Homo sapiens: one gene and its partners. The protein of the gene in region 6 interacts with the protein of the main gene of each other region in a pairwise test. Each region holds a gene or a part of one and is shown on either strand. Other genes may lie near its edges.

What was found.
Region 1: the proteins of COQ8A (region 6) and COL2A1 interact in binary tests that used the Homo sapiens proteins (3 or more experiments, as listed by UniProt).
Region 2: the proteins of COQ8A (region 6) and OGFOD2 interact in binary tests that used the Homo sapiens proteins (3 or more experiments, as listed by UniProt).
Region 3: the proteins of COQ8A (region 6) and LHX5 interact in binary tests that used the Homo sapiens proteins (3 or more experiments, as listed by UniProt).
Region 4: the proteins of COQ8A (region 6) and LDAF1 interact in binary tests that used the Homo sapiens proteins (3 or more experiments, as listed by UniProt).
Region 5: the proteins of COQ8A (region 6) and SHOX2 interact in binary tests that used the Homo sapiens proteins (3 or more experiments, as listed by UniProt).
Region 7: the proteins of COQ8A (region 6) and DTX2 interact in binary tests that used the Homo sapiens proteins (3 or more experiments, as listed by UniProt).

What each region holds. Positions count from the first base shown.
Region 1 is NC_000012.12:47,997,977-48,001,476, forward strand, and holds part of COL2A1 (collagen alpha-1(II) chain isoform 1 precursor), read right to left. Parts: exon of another isoform or gene 3,009-3,500; intron 2,150-3,008; coding exon 1,943-2,149; coding exon of another isoform or gene 1,940-1,942; intron 456-1,939; coding exon 439-455; intron 226-438; coding exon 193-225; intron 89-192; coding exon 56-88; intron 1-55. UniProt on the Homo sapiens protein: Type II collagen is specific for cartilaginous tissues. It is essential for the normal embryonic development of the skeleton, for linear growth and for the ability of cartilage to resist compressive forces.
Region 2 is NC_000012.12:122,973,900-122,978,043, reverse strand, and holds the start of OGFOD2 (2-oxoglutarate and iron-dependent oxygenase domain-containing protein 2), read right to left. Parts: upstream 2,801-4,144; 5' UTR 2,793-2,800; coding exon 2,661-2,792; intron 2,234-2,660; coding exon 2,177-2,233; intron 1,792-2,176; exon of another isoform or gene 1,652-1,791; coding exon of another isoform or gene 1,643-1,651; intron 1,391-1,642; coding exon 1,277-1,390; intron 1,174-1,276; coding exon 1,074-1,173; exon of another isoform or gene 878-1,073; intron 64-877; exon of another isoform or gene 1-63.
Region 3 is NC_000012.12:113,465,372-113,468,871, forward strand, and holds part of LHX5 (LIM/homeobox protein Lhx5), read right to left. Parts: intron 3,034-3,500; coding exon 2,756-3,033; intron 2,051-2,755; coding exon 1,885-2,050; intron 1-1,884. UniProt on the Homo sapiens protein: Plays an essential role in the regulation of neuronal differentiation and migration during development of the central nervous system.
Region 4 is NC_000016.10:21,175,674-21,178,394, reverse strand, and holds part of LDAF1 (lipid droplet assembly factor 1), read right to left. Parts: intron 1,259-2,721; coding exon of another isoform or gene 1,237-1,258; exon of another isoform or gene 1,234-1,236; coding exon of another isoform or gene 1,161-1,233; exon of another isoform or gene 1-1,160. UniProt on the Homo sapiens protein: Plays an important role in the formation of lipid droplets (LD) which are storage organelles at the center of lipid and energy homeostasis. In association with BSCL2/seipin, defines the sites of LD formation in the endoplasmic reticulum.
Region 5 is NC_000003.12:158,099,921-158,103,420, forward strand, and holds part of SHOX2 (short stature homeobox protein 2), read right to left. Parts: exon of another isoform or gene 3,308-3,500; coding exon of another isoform or gene 3,307-3,307; intron 2,967-3,306; coding exon 2,758-2,966; intron 392-2,757; coding exon 334-391; intron 29-333; coding exon 1-28. UniProt on the Homo sapiens protein: May be a growth regulator and have a role in specifying neural systems involved in processing somatosensory information, as well as in face and body structure formation.
Region 6 is NC_000001.11:226,967,794-226,971,293, forward strand, and holds part of COQ8A (atypical kinase COQ8A, mitochondrial), read left to right. Parts: intron 1-3,500. UniProt on the Homo sapiens protein: Atypical kinase involved in the biosynthesis of coenzyme Q, also named ubiquinone, an essential lipid-soluble electron transporter for aerobic cellular respiration.
Region 7 is NC_000007.14:76,496,209-76,499,708, reverse strand, and holds part of DTX2 (probable E3 ubiquitin-protein ligase DTX2), read right to left. Parts: intron 2,373-3,500; coding exon 2,232-2,372; intron 1-2,231. UniProt on the Homo sapiens protein: Regulator of Notch signaling, a signaling pathway involved in cell-cell communications that regulates a broad spectrum of cell-fate determinations.

The DNA of each region.
Region 1 (3,500 bases), on a different chromosome or scaffold from region 6:
AGTAACTTGCGCGCAGCGAGGAAGGGACGGAGAAAGAGATTTCTCCCTCTCTTACCTGAGGCCCAGGAGGTCCTTTGGGTCCTACAATCTGTGAGAGAGAGCCCCACAGGATGGTAAGTTAGAGGAGAGCACAAGGAAATGACCCATTTAGAGCAGCAGCTGCAATACCGGGTGAGAATAATTTGCACTTACATCCTTGATGTCTCCAGGTTCTCCTTTCTGTCCCTGAAACATGAAACATTCACAGGATTAAGCCGAGTAAGCCCACTAAGCCCCTAGTCTAAAACCCTGCCAGCAGCCCCTGTGTTGAGGTACCCTCTGAAACAGATATCTTCTGATGTCTAAAAAATCACAGACTGGATTAACATAGCATTGCTTTTGAAGCAGAAAATATAAAGCCAAAAAAATATGAAAAAAGAAAAAGAAGAAAGCCCTTACCTTTGGTCCTGGTTGCCCTGCAAGGGAAAAAATATAGAGAAGAAGAAGGTAAGAATCTTGAGATGGAAAAATACCTATTCTTGTCACTCAAACACTCATTAGATCAAACAAGTAAAAGGACACAATCAAGGAAGGCGGCAGCTTCCTGTGACTCCACTGAACCCCTCTGTTGGGGTGTTAGGGCCACTGTGGCCCTGGGGTTGCTGAGGTCCCATGAGGAATGGAGGTGACCCAGACTTTGTTATTCAAAAAGCAGGCAGCATGCAAAAGAAAGGAGCAAGGGCAGCACAAAAAGGCAATGAAGAGCTCAAGATCTAATCAGCCACAAGAAGGAAAGCACAGATTCAGTCTCTCTTCCCCCCACAGGGTAGGGAGCCGTTCCCGAACCCCAAGCCCTCCCAGAGGAAGAGTTAGGTACTTAGAAAGGTCTTACATTAGAGCTGGGTCTCCTTGAAGCAAGCACAAATAAAAACACAAAAACAGCAAGGCATATGAGTTATGAAGAGCATCGGAGCATCATAGCCTGTGCCATCCCCAGTCAATAACCTCTCCTTCACAGTAGCAGCAAAATAGTAAAGGCAATCAACACTTCACTCACACGGGCCCCTCAGAAAGGATCTGGGAATCTGCACATTAGGGAGCCAGTGTTGGTGAAGTGTTAAGGAAAGGCAGCTTCTCACTTCCCTTGCCACGGCCTTCTCTACTTCAGCAGGAAGCGGACAGCAAGAGCTACCCAAAAAACCTACACAAGCGTCCCCACTCACTCTGCAGGGAGATAGGACATCTGTATGAATGCTGGGAAGGGGTCACCTGCACATATATCATCCACCAGCACTGGATCTAACTGGGAGTTTATAACCACCCACTACAGTGCAGATACATGGGGCTCTGTCTCCACCCGTCCCCACGAGAACTCCCAAAGCCTAGCCCTTCCCTCTCCTATTATTTTGCTTCTGAATTAATGGTCAACTCCAAGAGAGGTAATAGCAGAGAGGAAACTACCACCAATGTTCCATAACTCAAAGAGGGAGCCTCTGCCCCTGCAGTCTCCCCACTAGCTGGCAGAGCTTTCTCCACACTGAAGACCACATACATAGAAGTCTTCTAAGGAGAAGACAAGGTGTCGGTGGCAGAGGAGGAATTAATTCGTGGATTGGCCAGACAGAGCATTTGATCTCCATAGTGGCTCTAGTAATTTGCAGAGATGATTTCAGAGAGGATTTTTTTTTTTTTTTTTTTGTAGAATCACATCTGTCCTTCATGTGTCTTGGAAGCAAATGTTTTTGGAGATGTTGGGCAAAGAAGGACCCCTCTAGTGTCTCAGGCTCGTTCACTCAGTTTCAACCTGCAAGTGAGAAGTGGCCTTTCCTTTCTACCCCAGCTACCAGGTCCCATGGATAACTAGCCCCTCTGCTTTGCAGAGACGACCAGCATCTATGGGAGCGTGTTTGCAGTGCTTGCAAGTAATTTATTTATGTTGAACAGGAAATAAATAAATTACAACCACTGGCAGTGGCGAGGTCAGTTGGGCAGATGGGGCAGCACTCTCCGAAGGGGATCTCAGGGCTGAGGCAGTCTTTCACGTCTTCACAGATTATGTCGTCGCAGAGGACAGTCCCAGTGTCACAGACACAGATCCGGCAGGGCTCCGGCTTCCACACATCCTTATCATTATACCTCTGCCCATCCTGCACACAGCTGCCAGCCTCCTCTGCACCAAGGGTGGGGAGGGAGAAGCAGAGAGCCAAGGGAAGGAGGGGGTGGGGAGCCAGAGAGAAAAAGAGAGAGGTTGCAGTCAACTTGACAGAATTCAAATGCTGAAGAATGTAGGCTGGGGCCACCTGGACATATAGAACTTAAAAATTATTTTCCTAAAACATCATTGATTTTTCCATGTATTCAACAAATATTTATTATGCACCTTGCACCATGTTGTCTATTCACCAGTGAAAATCTTGACCCAGCAATGAAGGTGGGGGGTTACTATACTATATTCTCTTTACCCACCTAATACGGGGGAGACCAGGTGATGGAGTGGGTGGAGGGAGTTGGAGGGTGAGCGGAAGGGAGGAGACAAGATATTCTGAATAGGAATTCTGGGACTATAAAAAGAAAGGAGACAGAAAAATGGCGAGACCTCCCTTCCACCAGCCCAGGAGCAGAGAAGTCTTCTTTCTTCTGCCTTCCTCTGGGAATTATGGGATTAGCTAAATACAACTGACAACTAACATTCAGAGGGAATGTAGAAAATTCTACCTACAAAAATTGGAATCTATAAGCAGTGAGGCTCCAAAAATAGGTATATAAGAAAGGGGGGTGAAAAGACGAGCTATTAGAATTAGGATCTTGTCTCATTCTTTGAACCATATTAGAATTAGGACCAATTTGGGGAGGGGGATAGACCCATTCAAACAATACACTTGGGGCTTGGGCAGGCTAATAAACTGCTTAGGAGGCCAGTGGAGCCAAAGCGCCCCCAGTGCTGACCTCCACCTGTAGCCCTGCCTGGAGAGGCCCTGCCTCCATCTGAAAACAGCACCCCAGTTTGGGGAGCAGGGGTCGTTGAATACCTGGCTAGGGCTAAGATTGGCCAGTCCAGGCCTGGCCTCCTCCAAGACTGCAGAGGAAGAATAGCAGGGACTAGTCTCCTCCACCAGCGCCCTGCCGTCTGGAATTCATGCTGCAAATGAAACCTGTGCTGACAAGAGCGCTCCTTAGCAGCCAAGGGCTGTAGAGCCCGCACCACGTGCTAGGGAGCGCCCAGCGCTGTTTTTCTCATCAAAATCCCCAAGGCAATAGCAGCAGCAGGGGATGAATAATAGGAAAGAGCCACAAACCCAGAGGGCGAGAAAGAAACGAGCCTGCCCACTGCTCTTTAAAGAGAGTGAAAATCCAAAGATAAACTTTCCTTTTTACTTTCCCACTAGAAGAAATCCGCCTAGCCTTTGGGCAAGATAATCACAGGAGGGTGAGGGATTCCAGGGAAAATACAGAAGTTGCGGGGACACACCCGCCGTTAAAATAGCTGGAGCAGTGGAATGCAGGCGGTGAGGAAGGTGTGG
Region 2 (4,144 bases), on a different chromosome or scaffold from region 6:
GGCTCTGGGAGCCTCTGTCCCCCAGCAGGAAGGCCAGAAGGGGCTGTTCTTTCTTGCTGGGCCCTGAGGGGGAAGAAACCAGGCTGAGAATGGAAACCTAAACATTTCTTGGCGGACGCACCAATGCCCAGGGGTGCAGGGCTAGTGTGCCCACGATGGGGCCACCTCGCAGCCTAGGCCCTGCCCCAGCCAACAGCCTCAGCACTATCTCAGCTGCCGGGGAGTGGAAGGCAATGAGGAGAGCACCCCCAGGCTGGGAGGAGGGGGATTCATTCCACCCATGACTCCCAACAAAGCACAGGCTCCATGAGGGGAAACTTGTATCTGCCTCCCACAGGAGCCCCTAGCCCAGGCTATCAGTGCCAATAAGAATAGGAAACACTTTCCAAACACTACGTGCGGGCCCTGTGACAGGCACTCTATGCAGATTAACTCACTTGATCGTCGCAGTGCCTTAAGAGAGGGGGTTACTGTTGCTCCCATTTTACAGATGAGGAAACTGAATCAGAGGTTAAACAACACGCAAACCTCCCTTGCCCAGCATTTCCTGCTGGGTTTAGCCAATAAGTGAGCCCAGCAAGAAATCCGAAGAGAAGTGGGGCATTTTTTGCCCTACTTGGAGTTTGGCATGGCCGCAGGCCTCCGCCCAGAGCCACAACTCCAGGTGGTAACTGCTCCCTCCTGTTGCCAGCCCTGGGGGGCCGGGCTTTGCCATTCCTTACTGGTCCCTTTATCCTGCCCATACCTGTCTCAATGGTCCCTTTAAGATCTTGGATCAGCCCTGTTTGAGTGTGCCAGCTGTCCCACACATGACACAAATATCCACTATTTGCTGGATGAGGGCACGAAGGAAGGGTGAAGGAAAGAATGAAGATACCAGGCTCATGGCAGGTATTGAATGAATGAATGCGGATGTCCTGCTCCTGGCAGGTTGGTCCCACTGACCCTTCCAGCTCCTGCTGGTTTGGTTTTTGGAGGCAGAGATGGTGGCTGGAGGGACCCCAGCATCCCACACCCAGGTTTCCCAGGCTGCCATTCCCTGGTCCTGCCAGGTCTCAGGGCCAGGACCTCACCCGATACTGTCTCCAGCCGCTGGAGAAGGCCCTTGAGGTCTGCGTCTGGGGACACGCTGTACTCAGTCACGGCCAGGAACTCGGGGGCCAGAGCTGCATCCTGGGAGCAAAACACACCAGCTGTGGGGCAGGCAGCACCCCCAGCCCTGGATGCTACCTCCTCTTTCCAGTACCGGCCTTCAAGCACTCTGGCTGGCTGGTACCTGCAGTGAGTCGTAGACCTCAGGCCGTGCCGGGTGGTAGGAACTCGCGATGAGGGCTTTCCTAGCTGCTGACTCCTGCCCCAGCCGCTGCCGCCGCTCCACCTCCTGCTCAAGCTGGGGTGGCACAGGGTTGTTACCAGGTGGGGCCTCCCATCCTCCTGAGGCCACTGTACAGATGAAGAAACTGAAGCCCAGAACGCCAGACAGGGCCCAGGCTGGAAGCCAAGTCTAGCCTACACTCCTGAATCTATCTGGGTCAACTGCAAGTTCCAGACTGTTAGCTGAAAGGGACTTCTAGAAGGGGACCCATCCTGTTTCAGGCTGCCCCAACCTGAGCCTAGCTGGGATGAGAACCCCTAGATGTACCTCAACCATCTGGGCCCACACAGGGACAGGAGACAGTCATGGCCAAGTCCTGTGTTCCAGAGGTTGCTGAGGACTCTCCTGGGAAGCTTCCCACCACTGACTCCAGGGGAAGGAGGAGGAGGGAGTGGGGCAGCAGCCCTGGCAGCAGCCTGCGGGGTATATGGTAAGGTGTGAGGAGCCCAGGGGCCTGGAAGCTGTGGCTGGGATCACATCTGCTCCTGCTGTAAAAGCTTGGGCAAGGGATCCCTCTTTAAGCCTCAGCTTCTCAATCCAAAATGAGAGTGGTGCTTGTGCTTATCTCACAGAGCTGTTAAGAACGGCATGACTAGGCAACTTAGCAACTTAGCATTTCCCCTTCTCTCTCCTGGTGCCAAGACTCAGGTGTGGAGGGATGAGTGGGGGGCAGGAAGGAGGAAAGTGAGGGCCTAAGTGACCCTTCAGGGATCAGGGACTGAGGCTAGGCTCAAGCTGTGTCCTCAAGCTGCGGACACAAATCTAACGAGGAGGAGCTGTGCAGGGGCAGGGGACTGGTACCTCTGCTAACAGCTGCTGGAAGTCCTTGGCGCTAACACAGCCTCGGCTGCGCAGGATCTGGGAGCAGAAAGAACACTGAGCATGACTGTATGACCTGAGGAAATCCCTTCACTCTCTAAGCCTCAGTTTCCCCTGCTTAAAATGGGGAGAGGAGCCCCGACCTCAAAGGATCATGGAGAGAATGAACTGCGGAACCCTGTCAAGCTCAGGACAGGGCTCCGGGCTGGTGTTGCTGTGAGGCGGCAAGCTGAGCCCGGCCCTGTCCTAAGCACCCTACATGCTTGTTCATTCCTTCCTCACAATCTCACAGGGAGATACTATTACCCCTTTACGGTGAGAAAACCGAGGCAGAGAGAGGCCGTCATTCTTGTATTTGAAGATACGGTGCGCGGCGTGCGCAAAGCAAACGACCCTGGGGACGAACTTCCCTCCTCCACTACCCCTCTCTGCCCACTGCTCCGTAGGGACGACAGCGGCCACTCACCGGGCCGTAGTCCCGGCGCAGCTGCTGCTCGCCTCGGAAGCGCACGTGCAGCCCATAGCGCGCCACGTACAAGTTATCGGTGCAGAAGCAGGCGCAGCGGCAGAAGTGCCGCGGAGCCCCCACCGTCGCCATAGTGAAGCACCCACAGCCCTACCAGCTTCCGTAGAGAGACTTCGGGCACGCCCCCAACCGCGGGAGGCGCGGAACCAGCGGCCAAGGGGCCGCTCTAAGTTCCCAAGGGCGGAAAAGGACGAAGACGCACCTCGCCAGGAAACGGTCTGCGGAGAAAGATGCTCCTGGGCCGGGTTGGGACCGGCGGCCTCCTCGTTCCGCCTCCCAGTTTTCCCACTACGAGGCAGGGACTAATGGCTCCACTTTACAGACAGCTGAACTGGGTCGTGCCTTCACAGGACGGGGAGAGGAAGGGACTCGGAGCCCCAAGGCCTTTGACTTAAACGCCGACCCACCCCCCGCCGTCTGCCCGGAGCTCGTGGAGAACCAGCCGAGCTGAGGACAGTTTAAAGAGCTCGGAGGTCCGACTAGTTCCCGCTGGTGCTTCAATCATCCAGCCCTGTACGTTTCAGTTTGGATTTAGCATCTACCCCGGGTCCCTGCCTGGCGCTTCCGGTCCCTCCGCCACAGTCTGTTGGATTACCTCAGATTGCCCCAGTGAGTGTCTCCACCAAAACGCTCCGTCTCGCATTACTTCCGGTGGCGTTCCCAATGGACGCGGGAGGGCGGGGTCAGGTGTGGGAGGGCGACGGGGCGTGGTCTCACCGCAGCCAACAAATGACAACTCTTGCAGACCGAGCCTCTTCTCTCCCCGGACCTTTGCTCAGGAATCTACCAGCATTAAACCTTTGAGCTAGGTACTATTATATCACCGTCTTACAGATGAGGAAACTGAGACCCAGAGAGGCACAGGGACCCGCCGCAGGTCACACATCCAGTAAGGGGCAAATATGGCGTTTGAACCCTACAGAGTTCCCCAGTTAACCACCACAGGGCTTCTGGGAGTGGTGGAAGTATGTGGGATTTGGGGTTTTCTCGTGCAGAGCTGCCCGGCCCGAGAAGGTGTTTAACGTTTTACAGTCGTCTTGATTGCCCAGTGATAGTGAGAGGCCCTGCTATCTAGGAAAGGATCCATTTCCCCAGATCAATGTTCATTACCCGCCTAACTGCCCTTTTTCCCCAGGAGGCCCAGGGCAGGTCGGCTCCCCAGCCACCCACCAGGCAGGCCTGGCACATGCAGCACCCCACCCCACCCTCACCCCCTCTCCGTTTGCAGCAGTTTGCAAGATGAGTGTGTTGTACCTATCAGTTTATTTATTTGTTTATTTACTTTTTGAGATAGAGTTTCACCCAGGCTGGAGTGCAGTGGCGCGATCTCCGCTCACTGCAACCTCTGCCTCCCGGATTCAAGCAGTTTTCCTGCCTCAGCCTCCCGAATAGCTGGGATTATCGGCAGGCGCCACCACGCCCAG
Region 3 (3,500 bases), on a different chromosome or scaffold from region 6:
GGCGGCCGGGCCGGAGGTAATTGGAACAAACGCCGTCTGAAAAGGGCACAAAAGCCGCAGCTGGGGCTTTGTCCGCGCTCCCACGGGGAGCCGCCGGCCCCGCCGCCCGGCCCCTTTCTCGCCCGCTGCCGGTCGCCACCGCCGGGATCTCCCAGCGCGGATTAGGCGGGGCTGCCTCGCTGGGGGCTGGGGAGTCTTCCCCACCATTACGGGGAACGAGGGGCCCCCAGTATCCAGCTCCCCACCTCATCCAGCGCGCAGGGAGAGGAGGCGGTGGGATAGGTCGGGGCGGGGGCGAAGTGGTCCTCGGGGAAACCTTGGTTAATTATCCAGGCGGGGAAAAATTCCGGGCCGGTACCGCCCCCACTACCTCGCTGCTCCGGGCCCAGATTTTGTAGGGAAAGAGGCAAATTTAGGTGGAGAGAGTCGGTGAGTGGAGACTCCGGAAGACACGCCCACCATCCGGGCTCTCCAGGGTTGGGGGTCTGTCCGGGGTTGGGGGTCTGTCCAGGGTTGGGGGGCTGTCCAGGGTTGGGCGGCTGGGGCGCTCCAGCCTGAGCCCTGCCACTGCCTGGGGTCTCTGCCCTGAAAAGCACAGCCTGGCATTTTGCCCACAATTTCTAGGGGCCCCGGTCCGGTCTCAAGGTCTAATCCCCCCTCAGGCTTCCGGATGTGCTGAGGTTAGTGATGGGGTTATCTTCCCTTCCCTTCTGCGTCTACCTGGGTGCCTAGCTCCTGCCTTGCTAACACTGCCACTGAACCCACTTTCTAAGAGAAATTGCCTCTTCCTAACCTGCGTTACAACTCAGAAGTGCAGATGCCTCTCAGACATAGACAGTCCTGGGGTCTCTCCAAATTCAGAAGCTTCAGAATAGAAGAGGAGAGGTGCTTTCTTGAGCCCTCAGCCCTGGGAAGAACAGGACAGTGAGCTTGGTGAGCTCAAGCAATGCGGCTCAGGGTAAGGAGCTGAAAAAATCGGATAGGGGGAGTTGGGATGGCTCACCAATCCAGTGTGAGGGAAGTGAGAGGAGGAAAAGCTGAGGTGGCAAGGGGACAGCTCACCCCAGGCCCAAGCCTGGTACCACCATCTGAAGCCCTTTGTAAACTGGGGCTCCTCGCTCTCTGCAGCCCCAAAGACGGTGGAAATCTGGGGTTGGCCCAACACTTGTGCCCCCAGTCTGTAGGAACCCCAGGGGTCTCGGGGCTGGAGGGTGGACTACAGTCCTGCCCAGAGCAACTGCCGGCATTTGGGCTAACACTGCCAGATGCTGTGCGCACACACCCCGCCACATGGAACAGGAGTTGCTGCCTTCGATGCTAGTGAGCAGGCGGCTTGGAATGAATCCAGACCCCCATCCCCTCCCCTCACACTACCCTCCAGCGCTCGGAATCCACCTCATGCCAAGTACACCAGGCACAGGGCGGCAGGAAGGCTGTGCGTCTGTCCGTGGGGGCCGCATGCATGTGGATTTGCCAGTACTGGCCTCAGTGTGACTGGTGGGAGTGTGCGCGTCTGTGGAGTTGTGTCTCCGTGAGTGTACCTGTGTGTGAGAGGGTGGAATTTACCTATACGTGATCGTGCGATCGTGTCTAGACGTGTGTCCCTGGAGTCTCTGAACGCAAGTGTGAGTGCACCTTGTGCCCTGCGTGGGTGAATGTGTCACTGTATCTCGTGTGTGCTTCTGTGTGCATCACTGTATGGGTGAGACCATGTATCTGATTTTGTGTCCAGGACATGTGGGTGAGTGTACATGTGTCTGTGATCGTGTGTCCAGCGAGTGGGCGATGTTCTGGAGCGGCGGAAAGCGTGCTGGCCGGGACCCTTCGCCCTCAGCTCCCGGAATAGGACAGGTGCGGAACAGCGAATCCCGGGGCGCCCCTTACCTCCGTAGTAGGTGTACGGGGTGGACCCCAACATCTCAGACTCGTCCAAGCGGCCGCCCAGCGGACGCATGCGCCGCGGACTCCGGAAGAAGGCGTGCCTCCGGGCGCCTAGGGCGCTCAGCTGTTTCATCCGGCGTTCTTTGGACCGTCGGTTCTGAAACCACACCTGGGACAGAGGAGGGGGCTGTGAACCCAGGATCAGGAGTGTCCTCTCCCCCCCTCTTCTCCCTTCCCTGACTGGGCTGCCCCTGCTGGGTCCTTGCGCCTCTTCCGCACCAGGACTCCCCCGAGGCGGGGCCGGGCCGGATTAGGCCGGGAGGGGTGGAGAGAGGCTTCGGCGAACCAGCCAAGGGTGAAGGATTTCGCGGACCCGTGGGGCGACTCATAAAGACTTGGGCTTCCTGGTCCCCGGCTCGCCCGCGGCCTGACGGCTCTATAAAGGCCTCCCTCCCGGCACGGCTCTCGCCTCGGCCCCTCGGCTCCGGAGCCAGCCTCTGGCCGTTTGTCTGCCCGCGCTTCGGCGCAGGGAGGGAGGGGGCATCGCCTGTTTCTCTGCTCGAAAGGTGGAGGTAAAGAGGGATCCCGGACCCCAGAGAGGCTTACAACCTTCCATAAGCAAGGCGGGGGGCGGAATTCAGAGAGGTAAAGTGACCCGCCCCCAAATCGCAATACCAGGAGGACAGCAGGGCTAGATGGAATCTTTCGGTTCACAGTCCCCGACCTCGGGCAAGTGCCCCACTCGGGCGCACGGTCTGCTCCCAGACCAGAACCAGGCGCGCTCGTAGCCAAGGAAGCTTGGCGGGAGACTCCTCCGAGGCTCCCGGCTCCCAGGCCAGCGGGGCTAAGGAGCTGTGCCCGCCCCGGGCCGCACCTGGATGACGCGCATGTTGAGGCCGGTCTCCTGCGCCAGCTGCTCGCGGATGTGGCGCGTGGGCTTGGGCGTGGCGGCGAAGGCAGCCTTGAGCGTCTCCAGCTGCTTGGCCTTGATGGTGGTGCGGGGGCCGCGCCGCTTGGTGCCCGAGTTCTGCTCCTCGTTCTCGTTGTTGGCCGTCTCCTTGTCCGACGAGGTCGAGTTGTCCGTCTCTTTGGGGTCGTCCTGCAGTGCGTCCTGGAGGTCCGGGGACAAACTGCGGTCCGTACAGGATGACACTGCGGGCGGACGGATCGGGAAGGGGACAGCGGCGTCAGCGACGGCCAGACGCCTCTTCAGTCCAGTGGCGGGTTCCCGCCGGCCCAAGCTACGGCCTGCCCAGGCTACGGCCAGCCCCGCTGGATTCCCTCCCAAACCTGCGACAGCCCCTCCCCCAGGGACCCGGTGCCCGCCCACTCTCTCCAGGCGGGGCTGGGCCTTTGGAGGGGCGCTCTTAAGCCCTCTCCGCGCGTCTCAGCTAGTACCTGGGTAAGGGTAGGGGGACGCGTACCCTCTGGAGAACTCCCACTTTCAAGGAGAGGGGACAAGGAGGGCACAGATTCCCTTGGGGCTTGGATCTTCCTCTCTCTTCCCTCCTCTCTCCAGACCTCAATTAATGTCCTTCCAGTGCATCAAGAAATTACCTGGAGCTCAAGTGACACATAAGGGGGAATTGTGCGCTTCCAAATTAGGGGAGGAGGGCAAC
Region 4 (2,721 bases), on a different chromosome or scaffold from region 6:
AAAACTAAGAAAGAAGCCTTTCCTTTTCTTAGTAAAGATGTAAGGAAGCTAGTTATGCTCAGGCTGGTTTGGAAGATTATGATATGGGGTAGTGAGTTTGGTGGCTCTGCAAATAAACACAGCTGCCCAGGGCCCCTACTTCTCCTGAGCTGCAGGCCCTGGAAGGTCTTGCAGTCTCCATAACCAAGCAGTGTGGTTTTGCCCCTCAGAGGCTAGCTGATCTACATAGGAGGCAGGTCAGTGTATTTGATCTAAATATTGTTTAGTTGGGTTTCATATGTAAGGGAAACTTACAGTTTTGTTTCCTTTTTCTTTTCTTTTTTAAAAATTTAAGCTGTATTATCTTTTATGTTTTAGGGCCAAAATTCCATTAAATCATGAAATAAATTATATAGCTCCTCTTCCCCCCATTCCATGCTTTCGATCATTTAATGAGGGAGTTATCTTTTTTTGAGTTATAAAGAATTCACTAATGCAGGCTGGGTACAGTGGCTTACACCTATAATCCCAGCATCTTGGGAGGCTGAGGTGGGTGGATCACTTGAGCTCAGGAGTTCAAGACCAGCCTGGCCAACATGGTGAAACCCCACCTCTACTAAAAACACAAAAATTAGCCATGCATGGTGGTGCACACCTATAATCCCAGCTACTCGGGAGGCTGAGACAGAAGAACTGCTTGAACCCAGAAGGGAGAGGTTGTGTGAACCAAGATCAAGCCACTGCACTCCAGCCTGGGTGAGAGTGAGACTCGTCTCAAAAAAAAAAAAAAAAAAAAGAATTCGCTAATGCAAGGGTTCTCAGATGAAAACCATGTTCACAATAACATGACCTATTATATGCCTTTTTCACTCACATTCTCTCACAAGGGAACAGTGCAATTTTTCAAAATATATTTGGAAGATCTGCATGACTCAATGAATTGATATTCTCCCATTGACCAATGGGTAAAGTTAGAAAATCATGCATGATAAAGATCAATTTAAAGTGTGACACAGACCTGAAGATTTCAATAAAATAGAGTAGAAAAATTTCACATTTCAGCTAACCTTTAAGAAACTATCACTTACGGAGTTTTGGTGGACTATCATAGAATATCCACAATCGTTTAAAAAAGCTTTGCCTCCCTCTCCCAACCGCATGTTAGTGATGCTAGGTCTTCTTCAAATACTCCAAACAGGACAACATAGCACAACAGAATGAATGCAGCCACACAAACGAGAAGCCGGCTGACAACTGTTAAGGCAGATATGAAAGAGATCTGTAAAATGTAAAATAATACCACTCACAAATTTCATTTTGTTTTGGAAAATATAGTTACTTTTCATTAAAATTTGTTATTTATATCAACAGGTAATATTGTTCCTTTTAAATGAATAGATATTTTTAAAATTTATGCTATGATTTCTCATAGAATAATTATTTCAGAACAAGAAACAATGAGGAAGAAAATTTTTTAAAAAGAAATAATTATTAATATTCTTTTTTTTTTTTTTTCCAGACAGAGTCTAGCTCTGTCACCCAGGCTGGAGTGCAGTGGTACAATCATAGCTCACTGCACCCCCAACCTCCCAGGCTCAGGCCATCCTCCCTCCTCAGCCTCTTGAGTAGCTGGGACCACAAGCATGCACCAGCTAATATTTAATTTGATTTAATGTAATTTATGTTATGTTTATTTTAATTTATTTTATTGTATATAGTTTTATGTCATGTTAGTTATTTATTTTATATTTCAGCTCATTTCATTTGTTTTTTGAGACAGGGTCTTGCTCTGTTGCCCAGGCTGGAGTGCAATGGTGTGATCACAGCTCACTGCAGCCTTGAACTCCTGGGCCCAAATGATCCTCCCATCTCAGCCTCCTGAGTAGCTGGGACTACAGGCACGCACCACCACAGTTGGCTAATTTTTGTATTTTTTGTAGAGATGTGGTCTTGCCATGTTGCCTAGGTTGGTCTTAAACCCCTGGCCTCAAGTGATCTTCCCTCCTTGGCCTCCCAAAGTGCTATTAATACAATTAACCACATAAATAACATCTCTTCAGATGCCTCAATAATTTTTAAGAAGGTAAAATGGGACTTGAGAACAAAAAGCTTAAGAACCTCTGCCCACGTGGAAACAATTGGTTGGCAGCAATAGGGGAAGATAAGGAGATCAAGTACAAATCCTGGATTTGTTTTTCAATTTCTTCATTGATAAGTAGGGAGTCAGATTCTGCTACTTCCTGTGGTATAATCTTTAAGAACTCACCCTGTTACAGCAGCGTTCAGAGGCAGGGAGGAATTTTATTTCAGAAGCATCACCCTCAATATGCAAAATAGGCCAATATTTCTCCTTTTACATCTTTTAAGACTGGGAGTGAGTTAGTGCCTTACGCCTATAATTCCAGTTCATTGAGAGGCCAACGGGGGAGGATTGCTTGAAGCCAGGAGTTTGAGAATGGCCTGGGCAACACAGCAAGACCCCATTTTATAAGTAAAATACAAATGAACAAACAAAAGACTAAGAGTGATCAAAGCGATTTTTGAAAAGGTGATTATGACTCCAGGGTTGATTCAATTAAGCAATCCTATAAGAGCCATCCTTGAGCAATTTTATATTATACCCACTTCACCCTTTATTTTTCAACATAGGAATAATAACAGGATAAACTTTTGGTAAGGAGTTCAAGGGCTGTTTTGTAGAAAAACAAAACTCAGGATATCAGTTCTTATAGAGCAATGGTT
Region 5 (3,500 bases), on a different chromosome or scaffold from region 6:
AACTGGCTGGCGGCCCCTATGAGAACACCTGTAAAAAGTACAAGAGAAAAATAATGTGAGGTTAACGTTTGTAGCATTTTTCAGGGTTCCAAAGGGTACAAGACAGAACGAATTCCTTTGAAAATGGACTATTATCTTTCTAAACTGCATCCAAAATTTAAATAAATGTAACTTACTCCCAAACTTTAGGACTCCATTAACAGCCTTTGAAGATTATTAAGTCAAGAACTATTGTCATTTTTGAGGTTCCTTTTTTTCTGTCATTGTAATAGTAATATTCACTACTTCTCTCTTTGCTCAGACTATCAAATGTTCCTTGTATAAGAAGCATACCTTTATGGAGTTGATTTTCTTGTTTTCTACATTTAGCTCTTCGATTTTGAAACCAAACCTATAGGTTGGAGGGGGAAAAAAAATAAAACCTAGATGTTATGACTAAAAATTTTTTTAAATTACAAAAGTACAAAGAGAAAAGAGTCGTGGTTTAGACAAGAATTGGGAGATACAGCAAGCAATCTTTGAATTGTATAAAACAGCCTCAAATTCCAAAGTTAAACATGTAAATTAACTACAGAAATAGAAAGATAGATTTTATAGACTTTCACAAGATAGATTACTATTAGTCCTGATTTCATCTTTTCACATAACAGAGTCCCCATGGCCTAAAACTCTGCTTGGTACCTGATACCAACATGATAATGGTTTAGATATTTGCCCAGTTAAGACCTGAGAAGAATGTGTTCATTAATAGCCTGTAATGTTAATTAGCTTCATCTTAAAGAAAAACCAAACACCAGAGCAAATAATGACTCCTTTGCGGAGAAGGAGTTGTAAGGGTTGGGGAGAGGTAATTAGTGTCATAAAAGCCTCACTACAAAGAAGTTTAGAATTTCTCTGTTCTGCTGTGCAGCAGAGTGAAACACAGTAGCAGAATAATTGTGCACCATTATCATGATAATCTAATTTGCTTCTTTAGAAAAAGCCACTGTTTGCAGTTAGGATAGTAGGAAAACATCTAGAAAATAACTAAAATGTAAATAAAAGTATGAAACAACAATAAAGTTCACTTCTTAAGAGAAAAAAAGAAGAGCACTCAGCGAAAGGAGAATGAAGTATATATAAAGCAAGTAACTCTTAGGTACTTTGTTCTCCTGGATGTTACCTGCTTAAACTTGACAACTTTTACAGGCAGTATGACAGATTTTTTAAAATTCAAATAAAGCTTGCTTTTGTATTCCACTTTCAATAATAAAGCATATTGATTGACTCACAAATTAAAGTTTTTAAAACCCCATTAAAGTAAAAATACTGCTTCAGAGCTTTCATTGGTATGTTTTTGAAAGCAAGTGTCATAGTCAATGTAAATCTTCAAAAATTTCTCTGCTATTTAGTACAACAGAGGGTGGATTTTGTGCCAGGGTGGCATCCTTTGTGTAATTCACATGGCCTGAGGCTTCTTGCCTTTTTTTCCCCTAGAAGAGTTGGAATTAAGATACTAATAATCATAACTGTAATAATTATCATCATGTTTTTAAGGGGTTGCTGAGCCTCTGGAGATCTCAGTGCACAGAGCGAAGCAGGAGAGGCTTAAAAAGGAAGGCTCTGCTGCTGATGCTGTGATGACCAAGGCAGCCTATTATTACTTTTCCTCTTCAACGTGACTGCTCTGTTTTTTTTTTTCCTGATCCTGTTACAAGATGTGGGGAAGCCCCTTAAGAATTGTGCATAGTTCGCTACAGATGGTGGTCTCTGTGCCCAGAGACCGAAAGAGTATCTGTTACAGCGATACTTTGTAACAGCTGCAGATGTGCGGGCCTAAAACTGCTCCATGTGTTCAAACCAATAATAACTATCATTTTATTCTATTTTATTATCTGAGCGGAAATACAATCTGAAACATTTAAATTTGTTCCCCCTAAAGCTAGAAGGATATGTGTATGTGAATGTACACAATTTGCTCCTTTAAATGCCCCCAAAGCCTATTTTTGCTATTACATTTGCCTCCACAACCAATAAAGAAAATCTGTTTCAGTCCTAACTTCATTGGGTATGGCACGTGCTGGAGGGCAGGCTTTGGAAATATAAATACTAATATATGTGGTTTGTTTTAAAATCTAATGTATTTAGGGTCAGTTTCGTTGCCTTGGTTAAATGAATGAACAAAGAGTGACCAAAATGCGTTTATTTCTCCGCTATTTCACACACAGTTTGAGATCGACCGCTAACAGCAGACTGTAAATTTCTGCACTTAACAGTTACTAATTTTCTTTATAGTCTGCACATCTATAAACCTAATTGGGATATCCGCTTGACAAACCTAGACCCTGCAGAGCAGACTTTCAAGGAAATCCAACTCCAGAGAACAAAATACTCTTTGGAACTTTTAAGGCATCCAGAGATAAAACGTTTTCTGTGGGATTTTTTTTTAAGCCTTATAAAAGTAGGCCCATTAGGATTAAACCACATTAAAGCCAGTGCGAGGCAAGGGGGGTGTGGTTTATAGAAACTCTGGGAGAAAGCCCAGCACAGCTTTCTTCTTCTGGGAACATATGTTAGGATGGAAAAAAAAAAAAGGAGGGGAGTGCTATAGGACTAAGATCTACTTTGGAAAATAAGACCTCTAGTAAAGATATCTCTTTCCTTCTCATCTTACACCAGACACTAGAAGCACCACCTCCCGAGTGTGTCCCCCAAGCCTCTTTCCAACCCCAGGCTCTCTCTGCTCCCTGGGCCCTCGACCTCCTGGCAGCTGGGTACCTGCACTCGGGCCTCCGACAGGCCCAGTCGCTGGCTCAGTTCCTCTCGCATGAAGGCGTCGGGATAGTGGGTCTCGTCAAAAAGCCTCTCCAGCTCATTGAGTTGTTCCAGGGTGAAATTGGTCCGACTTCGCCTCTGCTTGATTTTGGTCTGGCCTTCGTCCTCCATCCCTTTCGCATCCTCTTTGCGATCTTTCAGCTCCGGGGACACTGGAGGGGGCACCCCAGCGGGGCCACACGTGCATCCACACGAACACACACACACACGCACACACACACGGACGAAAACAGCACAGCAAATCCTGTTACCAGATTTGTCGCAAAAAAGAATAGAGAATCCTTCCCCCTCGTGGAATCCTGGTCCGGCTTCTCAACCCACCCGGAGGAAGAATATCCCGGAGAAGCGCAAAGGTCAAGTCTGAGCGGCCGCCTGGGGCAAGGTGGGCAGTCATCCACCACCTCCTTCACAAACGTACCTCGACTCACCGCCTCACTATTCACCCCCCAGTCACCGGCCTTCCCCAGCAAACACCAAATGGTTTCCACTCACTTTCGCACTCACTTGCTCCGCAGCACTCACAGAAATCAAAGGCGCAGCGCCAGGCCTCTCACAGAGCAAAGTCTGGACATAAGGGCGCGGCAAGGCCACCCACTGGCCTCTCACACCGGCCATTCCCAGAAGGCTGGCTCGTTCTCAGGCCAGCTCTCACCACCGCTGGCTCTCTGCCTACCGCAAACTTGCTG
Region 6 (3,500 bases):
CTGTGGGTGTCTGTGTGCTGGAGGATTGCCCACAGCTATGATTCAGAGATGCTCATGTTGTTGCCCAAGCAATTGACAGATGATGTTTCAGGCTTGGAGATGGCAGGATGGGAGCAAAGAGAAGCCAGGTCAGGAAAGAACGTGCCGTTCTGGCCCTAGTGGGGAATTCTGGGCCTTCTGGCTCACCCAGTTGAACCTTTCAAACTGTAGGTTATGACCCTTTAGTAACTGTGAAATTAATTTAATGCATCAGGATCAGCATATAAAAAACAAGTTAACTGTAATCTCAGCACTTTGGGAGGCCGAGGTGGGAGAATCACCTGAGGTCAGGAGTTTGAGACCAGCCTGGCCAACATGGTGAAACCCCAATTCCTACTAAAAAAATACAAAAATTAGCTAGGTGTGGTGGCATGTGACTGTAATCCCAGCTACTCGGGAGGCTGAGGCACAAGAATTGCTTGAGCCCAGGAGGGAGAGGTTGCAGTGAGCTGAGATTGCGCCACTGCACTCCAGTGGGGGCGACAGAGTGAGACTCTGTCTCAAAAAACAAGTTAAACAGAATGGAATTCAATAGAAAAGATTAGAATTAATATCGTACATCCTTACAATGAACTATACACATGGCAAGATATTTTAGTTTCAGAGACATACATACTATTTAAGTATGTTCTTCACTACAATGTGAAATATATAGCTTACTGGTGGGTCATCATCCAAACAGTTTGTAGTTGCACTGTTGCGCTTTGTTCTCCTAGAAAATACCTCTAGCCTTTCTTCCCTTCATGGAGGAAAGGTGTTTTTCAGGTGCAGACTGACAGACTTTAGGAAGTTTTTACACGGGGTTATGAAGGAAAGGGATTGCTCTAGGTCTCAGGGAGGTAGGGCTGCTGCAGGGACCCAGACGGGTTTTCAGCGAGGTTGGCAGTAGGTATTCAGCTATATAGAAGTGGAAGTCAAGGACTTTCCAATTCCAGGGGCTCATTTTGATGCTGAAATGGGGGCGGGGCATGAGTCCTAAGTCCAATTTGGCTATGGGACATTATGACTGTGATGCTATGGGCAGGATGATCTGTGGATATTAGATTTTCTTAAAGAGTGGTGTGAAAGAAAGGGTCATATATTGGATATGGGGTCAGAACTGAACTTTAGTTCATCATAATAGCTGTCCTTTGATTACAACTGTGCTTCCAGTGTGACCTTGGGCTCTACCGTGGTTTTCTCTTTTGTAAAATAAGGGTCTTGCCGTTGATTCCAAATGGGAATATTTTGGTAAATGTTCCATGTTTACCTGAAAATAATTCATGTTGAGTGCAGTGATCCGTCTATCTAGTCTGGTTTATTATTCATATTGATCAGATTTTTAAGTGATTTTGGTTTGCTTATTCAATAAGCTATCGAGAGAGGCATTAAAAAGTCTGCTATGATTGTGGATTTACCTACTTTTAGTCTATTGACTTGTGCTTTATATGGTTTGAAGCTATGTTATTTGTTGCCTACAGATTCAGAATTCTTTTTTTTTGTTTGAGACAGAGTCTTGCTCTGTCGCCCAGGCTGGAGTGCAGTGGCACAATCTTGGCTCACTGCAACTTCTGCCTCCTGGGTTCAAGTGATTCTCCTGCCTCAGCCTCCCGAGTAGCTGAGACTACACGTGCGTGATAAGTCTCGATCTCCTGACCTCATGATCCGCCCGCCTCGGCCTCCTAAAGTGCTAGGATTACAGGCGTGAGCCACCGCGCCCGGCCAGATTTAGAATTCTTCTTATATCCTCCTAGGGATTGACCCTTCATTCTTATGTTATGCCTCTTTTCATCTCTGTGAAAGTCCTCATTGTCTGATATTACTATAGCTACATTCCAGCTTTGTTTTGGGTAATGTTTGCATGTTACCTTTTTTTTTTCCCCTGTACTTTCAACTTTTAAAATGTCCTTATGTTTAATGCATATCTATGAGCAGCATATATAGTTGGTTTTTTGTGTGTTTTAAGTGTAGACTGATAATCTTACAATGAGAATATTTAGTCCATTTACATTTAAATGCAATTGTGGATGTATTGGAGTTTATATCTACTACCTTAGTTTTTGTTTGTTTACTATTTGACCTGTCTGTTATGTCCCCCTTTTTCTCACCTGTTTTGCCTTCTTTTAAATTAATCAAGGACTTAAAATTATAGTCATGCGTCTCTCTTTTTTTTTGGAGACAGTCTCGCTCGGTCACCCAGGCTGGAGTGCAGCGGCGTGATCTCGGCTCACAGCAACCTCAGGCAATTCCCATGCCTCAGCCACTCGAATAGCTGGAATTACAGGTGTGTGCTGCCATGCCCGGCTAATTTTTGTAGTTTTAGCGGAGACAGGGTTTTGCCATGTTGGCCAGGCTGTTCTTGAACTCCTGGCCTCAAGTGATCCACCTGCCTCAACCTTCCAAAGTGCTGGGATTAAAGGCATGAGCCACCGCACCTGGCCCTCATGTGTGTCTTAACAAGGATTCAGTCCGAGAAATGTGTCGTTAGGCAGTTTCATCATTGTGTGAACATCATAGAGTGTACTTACACAAACCTAGATGGTATAGCCTGCTACATGCCTAGGCTGTATGGCATAGCCTGTTGCTCCTAGGCTACAAACCTTTACAACATGTTACTGTACTGAATACAGTAGATAACTGTAATACAACGGTATTTGTGTACCTAAACATAGAAAAGGTATAGTAAAAATATGATACAATCTATCACTGTCGTATATGCAGTCCGTTGACTGAAATGTTACATGATGCGTGACCGTGCATGTTCTCTCTTTGTTAGCTCTTATGTTTTACATTCCTTTACGGTTCTTTTGGTGATCACTCTTGAGATTACAGCACGCATCTTGACTTATTACAATATAAAAATAAGTGATTATTTTTACTACTTCTCCAATGATGCTAATACCTTAGAACACTTTTTAGATATTAAGATATATTAAACACCACAAGAATTATTTCTTTGTACAGCCCATATGAATTTAGATTTACCCACATATTTGCCCTTTTTTGTGTTTCTTTCTTCCTGCATTTCTATAATTTTATTTGGTATAATTTTCTTTTTCTCTGAGGAACTCTCCTCTCTCTTACAGTGTAGTCTGTTAATCATGAATTCTTTTAGTTTTTATTTATTTTTTATTGATTTATTTTTTGAGATGAAGTTTTGCTCTTGTCACCCAGGCTGGAGTGCAATGGCGTGATCTCGACTCACTGCAACCTCTGCCTCCCGGGTTCAGGTGATTCTCCTGCCTCAGCCTCCTGAGTAGCTGGGATTACAGGTGCATGCCACCACACCCAGCTAATTTTTGTATTTTTAGCAGAGATGGGGTTTTGCCATGTTGGCCAGGCTGATCTCGAACTCCTGACCTCAGGTGATCCACCCACCTCTGCCTCCCAAAGTGCTGGGATTACAGGCATGAGCCACCACACCCGACCTAGTTTTTATTTTTTTGAAAATGTCATTATAGCTGGGCACGGTGGCTCATGCC
Region 7 (3,500 bases), on a different chromosome or scaffold from region 6:
TGGTGAGGATCGGCGCGGCCCGGGGCGTTCTCTAGGTAGTGGGAGTAGCAGAACCACAGAAGCCAGCAGCCAAGCCCGTGCGGGGGTGAAAGAGGGACGGGGAGCCCAGTGCCACCCGTGGAGGCGCTCCTGACAGGGGCTCCACCCCAAGGTCATGGTGGGGCTGCGGTCGTCCCAGACTCCAGGACCAGAAGGGGCTCTGGTTTGAATCCAAGCTCACGGCCTTCAGGGGCTGCAGAGAATTCTAAGCCTGAGGGCTCACAACTGCACCTGCTGAACTCCCTTTACACCAAAAAGGGCCAGGGAGGGGACAGTTTGGCAGGGAGGTGGCGTGGTGGGGTGGAGGCTGGAGTCGGCACGGTTTGTTTAATTCTAGTTCTCTTGCTGTGAACGAATCATGCCACCTCTGAGCCTCGGTTCCCTGATCTCAAACGGGAAAGACGAATATGTAACCAAGCTGGAATTGCTGTGATGGCATGGCTGCTGTGACCTGGAGGGAAACTGCTGGCAAGACCACACCCCCCAACCCCCATCCACACACCCCACACCTCCACACCTCCTCACACCCTACACCTCCATACACCCCACACAGCTCCACACACCCCACACCTCCACACACCTCACACCTCCACACACCACACACAGCTCCACACACCCACCTCCACACACCTCACACCCCACCTCACACACCCCACACTTCTACACACCCTACACACCTCACCCCTCCACACACCTCACACCTCCATACACCCCACACACCCACCTCCATACACCCCACACCTCCACACACACTCCACACACACTCCACACCTCCATACACCCCACACCTCCACACACCCCACACACCCTCACCTCCACACACCCCACACACCCTCACCTCTACACACCCCACACACCCCACACCTCCACACACCCATACAGACTGCCCGAACCCAAATCCTGTCACGGTGGCGAGAACGCCAGACCAGAACGATGGCCCCCAGCTCAGGGTCGCCCTCCGTGTGGCTGGAATGCCCTACTCAGGCTGAGGGGGGCCTTTTCCTTTGGAAAAGCCTGCCAACTCCAGAGCCATCTCCGGGTGAGCCTGGGCCTCGCCTCTGCCCAGCCCTGGTGAGGCCGGGCACAGCATCCCACCCCCGCCCACCCACCCCAGCCCTTGCAGCTTTTCAGAGCAGAAGGGAGCTTTCCATTAGCCACGTGTCTCAGAAGGGGCCAGCCAGGCGACCCACCAAGAGCGTGTCCTTCCCAGGTAAACCCGAGTGCCACAGAAGGTTGCCAGCCCGGGCTGCCAACGAGTCTGGCTCCTCCCCCAGGGCAGGGGAAGGGCAGGGCGTGCAGAGCCCTGGGCTGGGGGCAGGAGCTCGAGGCCCACCCCTCCCTGAGCCCACCTCCTCGCCTGTGGGCTGGAGGTCGGACACGATCGGAAGCCACCCTTGCCGCATGCCAGGCGCTTCGAGTATTTCCTAGACCTCGCCAAGCCCCTCTGCTAAGCGGAGGCTCCGAGAGGACCTGCTGAGATGACACAGACACTGAGGGCCAGCAGGGCCACGGCCACCCTCCCTGCCCGCCACCACGCCCACTCAAGAGCGTCTGGACTGGCCACAGTCCACACTTCCACAGCCCAGGGGTGGAAGCAGGGCCAGCACCCGCTTGGGAAAGGTTCAGAACTTGACCATCACAGGCTGCTCCGAGCAGGTCTTGCTGTAACTCCCTGGACCTGCTGTGGTCCTAAAGCCCCTTCTTCTGTGGCCATGCAACGAGCAGGGCAGGGGTCACCGAGGGACCCCTCTCAAGCAGCCCACGTGGCGGCCACACAGGGCTGGGGGTCAGGGCAGCAGACCTGGGCAGCAGACCTGGGCCGCTGTCTGGGGGCCTTTCCCGAGACACGTGCTGGCCCTGGCGGAAGGGACGGTTGTCCCCGCATCCTGAGCCGGGCGCCGCCTCTCACCCACAACTTGTTGCTTACAAAAATCACAAAGTCCTCAAGAACAAGCCCCCTCATGCCAGCTGTGACTGGAGGAGAGGAGCTGAACTCTGGGGCTGCGGTGGAAAGTCAGCTTCCAGGGGCCGCCTCTGCTGCCGAGCGGGGGCAGGGAGAAGGGCCACTGAGCCCCTTCCCCCAGGAGTCAGGGAGCAGAGAGAAGGAAGAGGGTCTGTGCAGAAGAGTCAGAGGCAGCGAGGCCGGAAGGAGGCTTAGCAAAGGCCAGAGAGCTTTTGGGAACAAGAACTACCTTTCACGGACATTTTCCTCAATCTCTTAACTGAGCCGTGACTTTTGGAAGCCAGACGGGAGGCGGGAGGGCTGGTGGGCTGGGGTGCGCGGCTAAGACACACAGGGAGTCCAATGGCTGACATCAGAACACTCGTCATGCCTGCACGGGTGTGAGAGCAGACACGCAGAGAGGGAGAGACATTAGAAGACTCCTTCGGCATGTGACGCCAACAAACCCTGCTCAGGCCAAGGATGTGACACCATCAATGGCCACGGGGACGCACAGGTCTCCCTGGGGACTACCCAGGCCAGGAATCAGAGGGTGGGGCAGCCTGGCTCATGGTAGCCCTGGCCCCAGAGCCCACAGGTTTCTATAGGAGCAACAGACAAGCCCGTGCCCTCAGTGTGCAGGTGGGCACCGGGGCAGGACCCGTGACTTCAGGAGAGCAGAGGGCGGAGGACGCCACTCCAGGAAGCCGCCCGGGGCACGGGGTCTCCTGGGTGGGGCTGGCTCCAAGGGCTCAGCTTCCCCAGGAGGCCCTGGGCCCTCCTGGCTTGGAGTTACTAGGCCTCCAGCCTCCACTGGGTGCTGTGTGTGCTCCATGCCCCTCCTGGCTGATCTGGGTGCCAGGGCCTTCAGCGACAGCGCTGGGGTAGGCGGGCAGGAACGTGGCCCCTGGGCCTGCTCCCACACTGCAGCATCCCCATACTGTGAGGGCTGGGCTGCAGCAAGGCCCCAGGCTGTGGCTCTGGCGCCCTCGGGCAAGGGTGGGCCTGTGGCCAGCAGCTATGCTGGGACAGACCGGCCACTCTTTCCAGAGCTCACCACTGCCGGATGCCTGCAGGGAACCCCACACTTGCCCTGGGGGACTCTCCTCTGACACTGCTTCCTTCGTGCTCCCTGATGACCCAGCGCTTCCTGGGACACAGCGTGTCCTGCTGGACGAACCCGTTCCTGCCACACCCTCGGCCTACCCCACTTTCCATAGTGCCAGCTCCCCGGTCCTCCCTGTCATCGGTCAGTTAGGTCAAAAGCACCTCCTCTCCAGAGAAAGGGGAAGCCTAGAGCTTCTTAGCCATCTCTTAAGGTGGCTTCCAGGGTCTGCAGAACCTGGCTCAGGAGCTGGGCACAGCCGGCTGCCGGGGGAGTTGGTAGAAATCCCAGTCCTCCTGGACCCCACTCCCCATCCAGGAACAGATGGCGTGACTCAGGGGTGAAGGGCGGCCAGGCCAGCCACTGCGCCCCCACTAGAAGAACAAAGCTTCTCAACCCGGCACATGTGCCTGG